Linked DNA regions of Homo sapiens: region 1 is linked to region 2. The links come from fine-mapping of genetic effects on gene expression. A gene starts in region 2. The other region holds a variant in brackets. All regions are shown on one strand. Distances are between the middles of the regions. Region 1 overlaps KDM5B (lysine demethylase 5B). Region 2 holds the start of PCAT6 (prostate cancer associated transcript 6).

Evidence for each region. PIP is the estimated chance that this variant, and not a neighbour inherited with it, causes the effect.
Region 1: its variant is the best candidate, but not a certain one, in a credible set for the expression of PCAT6 in whole blood (TOPMed, PIP 0.51).

What each region holds. Positions count from the first base shown.
Region 1 is chr1:202,775,070-202,777,984 of GRCh38, forward strand. It overlaps KDM5B (lysine demethylase 5B), which reads right to left. Exons shown (of 27, transcript NM_006618.5): 2 at 1,948-2,025. Among named protein-coding and RNA genes, the nearest start is that of KDM5B, 32 kb to the right of the region's middle. The variant A/AAT (reference allele first, on the strand shown) is at 1,487.
Region 2 is chr1:202,809,606-202,812,520 of GRCh38, forward strand. It overlaps PCAT6 (prostate cancer associated transcript 6), which reads left to right and starts at 1,349. Exons shown (of 2, transcript NR_046325.2): 1 at 1,349-1,765; 2 at 1,970-2,307. It overlaps LOC124904583, which reads right to left. Exons shown (of 3, transcript XM_047439549.1): 3 at 633-1,954. The coding sequence ends at 1,430. RefSeq lists a silencer at 1,216-1,445.

The DNA.
Region 1 (2,915 bases), 35 kb before region 2:
CATCTCTATTAACAAAAATCAGCCTAGTGTGGTGGCGCGTGCCTGTAATCCCAGCTACTCAGGAGGCTGAGGCAGGAGAATTGCTTGAACTCAGGAGGCAGAGGTTGCAGTAAGCTGAGATCACACCACTGTACTCCAGCCTGGATGAGACAGTAAGACTCTGTCTCAAAATAATAATAATTATACGACTGGGTGCAGTGGCTCATGGCTGTAATCCCAGCACTTTGGGAGGCCGAGACGGGTGAATCACGAGGTCAGGAGTTCGAGACCAGCCTGGGCAACATGGTGAAACTCCGTCTCTACTAAAAATACAAAAAATTAGCTGGGCGTAGTGGCAGGGGCCTGTAATCCCAGCTACTCAGGAGGCTGAGGCAGGAAAATCACTTGAACCTGGGAGGTGGAGGTTGCAGTGAGCAAAGATCATGCTACTGCACTCCAGCCCAGGTGACAGTGCAAGACTCTGTCTCAATAAAAAAGAAAAATAAAAAAATAATAATTATACATGGTCGGGTGTGGTAGCTCACACCTGTAATCCCAGCACTTTGGGAGGCCAAAATGGGCAGATCACTTGAGGCCAGGAGTTTGAGACCAGCCTGGCCAACATGGTGAAACCCCATCTCTACTAAAAATACAAAAATTAGCTGGATGTGGTGGTATACGTCTGTAATGCCAACTACTCAGGAGGCCGAGGCAGGAGAATCACTTGAACCTAAGAGGCAGAGGTTGCAGTGAGCTGAGATTGTGCCACTGCACTCCAGCCTTGGTGACAGAACAAGACTCTTGTCTCAAAAAAAAAAAAAAAAAAAAAAAATATATATATATATATATATATATAATATATACACACACATACATTAACTCAACAAAAATTTAATTCAGGCTGGGCATGGTGGCTCATGCCTGTAATCCCAACACTTTGGGAGGCCAAGGCAGGCAGATCACCTGAGGTCAGGATTTCAAGACCAGCCTGGCCAAAATGGTGAAACCCCATCTCTACTAAAAATACCAAAATTAGCCAGGCTTGGTGGCACACACCTGTAATCCCAGCTACTTGGGAGGCTGAGGCAGGAGAATGACTTGAACCCAGGAGGCAGAGGTTGCAGTGAACCAGGATAATGCTGCTGCACTCCACCCTGGGTGACAGAGCGGGACTCCATAACAAAAAAAGTAAAAATTTTAATTGACTTTTTTAAAAAATTTAATTCAGCCCCTACCACGTGACAGACAAAGAATTAAACACTCAGTAAACCTTCCTGTGATGTAAGCAGGCACTCTGAAAGGAACTTAATTAGTACTGTAAGCACAATTCCATATAAGTGTTTAAAATTATATGGCAAGTAAATATGCTTTTATATGCCCAGCTTTGGGAGGCAGAGGCAGGAGGATCGCTTCAGCCCAGGAGTTTGAGACCAGCCTGGGCAACATAGGGAGACCTCAACCCTACAACAAAAACACAATTCTGTGTGTGTGTATCTTCACATATGTA[A/AAT]ATATATATATATATAAAATACAGGGTCTTGCTCTGTCGCCCAGGCTGGAGTGCAGAGTGCAGTGGCACAACCATGGCTCACTACAGTCTTGACCTCCCAGGCTGAAGCAATCCACCCACCTCAGCCTCCCGAGTAGCTGGAACTACAGGCACACACCATCACACGTGGCTAATTTTTTAAACTATGTTTTAGCAGAGACAGGGTCCCGCTATGTTGCCCAGGCCAACCCTCCTGCCCCAGCCTCCCAAAGTGCTGAGATTACAAGTGTGAGCCACCATGCCTAGCCAATTCGATATTTTAAAGACCTGTTCTCTACAGAAAGAAATGTTCTTATTTGCTCAAATACAAATCTAAAAACAGATTTACAATGGTGATTCTGTAACAATTTTAATATATCGTAATAATTTCAAAGACGGTCCCCCTGGAATACAGGCAAACAGAACAATAGTGAAGACATTACCTCCAATTCATTCAGTCTCTGGATACGTGGCGTAAAATGAAGTTTATCAACATCACATGCAAATGGTGGCTGCCAATCCTAGGAGAAAGCAAAGGCTCTTATTAGAATAACTTATAAGCATTTGACATTCAAAAATTTGTTTTAAAATTAAAACCCAGGTTAGGTAAATCTTATTCTAACCAATCAAACAAAATAGAACACAGAGTAGTGGTTTCTCAACCTTTTGTCCATGAGAGCAGCAAAATATGTATGAACACCCTTTCCCAAATAAATGATATATCACATATACACCTCTCCCCACAAACCTTCCCACTGAGCAATGTCATTGAGCCTGTAAAAAAAAAAAAAAAAAAAACACTCATTTAGGCAAAAGACACTTTGACTTCTGTATTACCATAGACATACCTCATTTTTTATATAACAGCTATATGTCTATAACTTTAAAAAACACATTTAACCTTCCAGTCACATTAACTTTTTTAATTTTTTTTTTTTGAGATAAGGTTTCACTCTGTTGCCCAGGCTTAAGTGCAGTGGTGTGATCACAGCTGGTGGAAACCTCTGCCTCCTGAGCTCAAGCGATCTTCCACCTCAGCCTCCCAAGTATCTGGGACCACAGGTGAACACTACCACACTCAGCTAATTGTTTAAGGTTTTTTTTAGAGACGAGGTGTAGGTACATGTATTGCCCAGATCAGTCTCGAACTCTACAGCTCCAATGATCCTCCCACCTTTGCCTCCCAAAGTGCTGAGATTACAAGTGTGAGCCACTGAGCCTGGCCCACCTTAACTTTTCTTATTAAATTGAGGGTAAATTCTACAGTGGTGTCAGGGGGAGAAAAACTGACATCCAAATCCAATTTTAAAAGTCATCCTTGGCCGGGCAAGGTGGCTCAACCTGTAATCCTAGCACTTTGGGAGGCCAAGGAGGGTGGATCACCTGAGGTCAGGAGTTCAAGACCAGCCTG
Region 2 (2,915 bases):
GAGTCTTCACAACCACCATATTGAGTAGGTACGATATTATCCTCATTTTGCAGAGCAGGCAACGGAGGCAAAGAGGTTAACGAACTTTAAGAGATACGAACACTTTTGAGGCGCCTTTTTTCTTTTGGCGGGAGACGGGGGACGGGGGTGGGGGGGTAGTGTCCAGCAGCCTCAGAAAAAAGGAGGAAGCTCAAAAAGTAGAACGTCAACATTGAAATGACCTCTTTCATCCAGAAAGCTGCCAAACGTATGCAAGGAATGTTTGTCAAGATCTTAGTTCGCTTTCAGATTCACCTAGTGGAAGGAAATCTCTTATGCTTAAGAAGTCTTCAATTAAAAGGGGGGATGGGCGTGGGGGGAGAAGAAAACCGCCTTCCCTTCAACAAATTTTTCCCAGAGGTACCGGGCCCAGGAAAGAGTTCACAGTGGTCCTGGGAGAACGTATTCCTTTTCTTAGCTCTCCAGGGCTTTGGGACCTGGAGTCTTTTCCTGCTCCCTACTGCAATGGAGAGTCAAGCCCAGGGGACAGCTAATACACTATTAAAAGAATTATCAGTGCAAGATAGATATGCGATGTGGCAAGTTATAATAGAATCTAGGTAGTGGGTATAGAGGAATTTGATGCAAATTTCTTTTAACTTTACTGAATATTTAATAATACTAAATAAAAGTTGGGTAGAAGAATTATCGTCGATGGCTCTTTGGTGCGCATTCTGGGCCTCCGAGGGTCTTGATGAAGCTCATGTAGTGTCATGTGCTCTCTCGGGAGAGCGTTGACTATTTTCACTCCTAACGTTGGCATCCTACGAGCCAGGTAGGCATAACTTTGAGACAAATTCTAGACTTACATGAGTTATGATTATTATTTAACTGAGATGGACAGGAAGAACAAGCCTAAGAAAATCTTTCCCAATTCTCAGCTGCGTCCTACGATTCCCTCTCGCTCCCAACTCTCAAGGTCTCCCAGTCCGGCTTCCTCCATTTCCGGTAGTGACCCTAAGTGATGAGATTCTATCGCTCCCAGATCAGGCCGCAGCTGTTTGGCTCCCAGCAGACCCGGTGTGACGTTAAGGGACGGGGCGGTTGCCGGCGTCTTGAGGGGAACCTAGGGACCGAGAGGACTCTCCGGGAAGGCAGCCGCTCCCCCGCCCACAACAGACGCTCCCCTTGCCCTTTATGATGTTTACATGGGCGGAGGGATCCCTCCCAGCTGACAGCCACACCGCGCCGGCCCTTCTTTTTTTAAAGAGCCTAGCCACGGGCGCTGACTGGCCGGCAGCCGGGCGCGTCATCCTCCGGGGGCGGGGCCCGGGCCGCATTGTCTCGTCTAGGGCCGGCTGGACGCCCCAGAGGCCGGACCTGGGCAACCCCAGCCTGGAGGTGCCGGGGCCGGAGCTCCCAGAGGGCTGGGTGCGAGGCCTAGGCGGGGTCAGGTTCGGGTTCCTAGGCCATAGCGGAGCTGCAGCCCAGGCGGCCGGAGCGGAACCCAGCCCCGCTCCGAGTGCCACGTCTCCAGGAACCCCCTCCTTACTCTTGGACAACACTCCGCCCCCGCCCGGGCCTCCGTCCCCCAAACCGCCCTCATTTGTGCAGCGCCAGATCCTTCGGACACATCCCTAGGTGTCTCCATCCTCATTCGGTCCATCCAACTCCCAGACCTCACGTCAACCGGCTGCACCCCACTTTCCAGCCTGCGCCCCAGATCTGCAGCCTTCGCCCCTAGATACACCCGCCTGGTGATGAGGCGCTCCTCGCGTTCCTTCCGGTAACCGCGTTGCGAAGACCACGCTGCCGGGTTGCAAACTTGGGGGGACTTCCTCCCTCCCCTCCCCCTGGGCGCCGTGCAACTGCCCTGGGACCGGGTTCTGGGATGAGGGGGGCAGACCGGGCTCCCCAGCGGCCGGCGCAGCACGTAGCGCACGTGTAGGGTCCGCTCCCCACCCCCTCGCCGCCTCTGACAACTTTTCAGGGCTCCAGGTGTCCGTGAGCCTCCCTTCCGCCCTGGCCTCCGGTCTCTGCCTTGCTCGTGCTTCTACCACCACCCTTCCCCTCCCAACCCGGTGGATCCTCTCGTCTCCCCCAGTCTCCAGTGCACCGGCTTTCCCTCGTCCTCTGCGCAGTCCATCTCAGCTCATCTCTCCAATTCAATGCCATCATCTCTCCTCACCATCTCTCGGTGCCCTGGAATGTTTGCTGTCAGATGTCCCCTGTGAAACCCACAAACGCTTGCGATTTGGCCTCCTTGTTTTATTTTGTGTAGTCCTACAACGTCTTGTTACTACCCCCTATTACAACACTTATAACTCAGTATTTGTCTTTTTTCCGCGGTGTCCCTGCACTCTCCCCATACATATTCCTCTCCTGCCAGATTGTAAGCCTCTAGAGGGAAGAAGTAATGTCTCTCTCCTTGGCACCAGGCACGTGGCACACGCTCCACAAATATTTGTTGAAAGGGAGGGTAAATGGCCTTGAGTTTCTGTGGCTACCATTGGCTGAGGATGGAGCTTTGGGCTGGACAAAGAAGAATCTGGTTGACCACATGAAGCAGGAAGGAGGCTCAGAACGGTGTTGAGGGAGCCTCCACAATGGGTGGGCACCACAGGTGAGATAAACCCATCCTCCCCCATTCCCTGCCCTGCTTAATTCCCGGGAACCAGCAACCCCTCCTATGCTATCGTCTACTGCTGAGCTGGTCCCTTATGGTGGACTTCTGTGCTCACTGTTCTGCTTTAGCCCCAGCTGTCGGGGCTGCCCTTGGGGAACAGCTTACACCTTGACCAGGCGCTCATTTCTGGGTTTCTGTTCTTGGGAAGCTGGGTCTGGGTCCTGGGAGCCACCTGGTAACTAATAAATACCTCTTCCTCCTCCCATCTGCTCTTCCTCTCCTGTCCTGGAATCCCTCTCTGATGACTCAG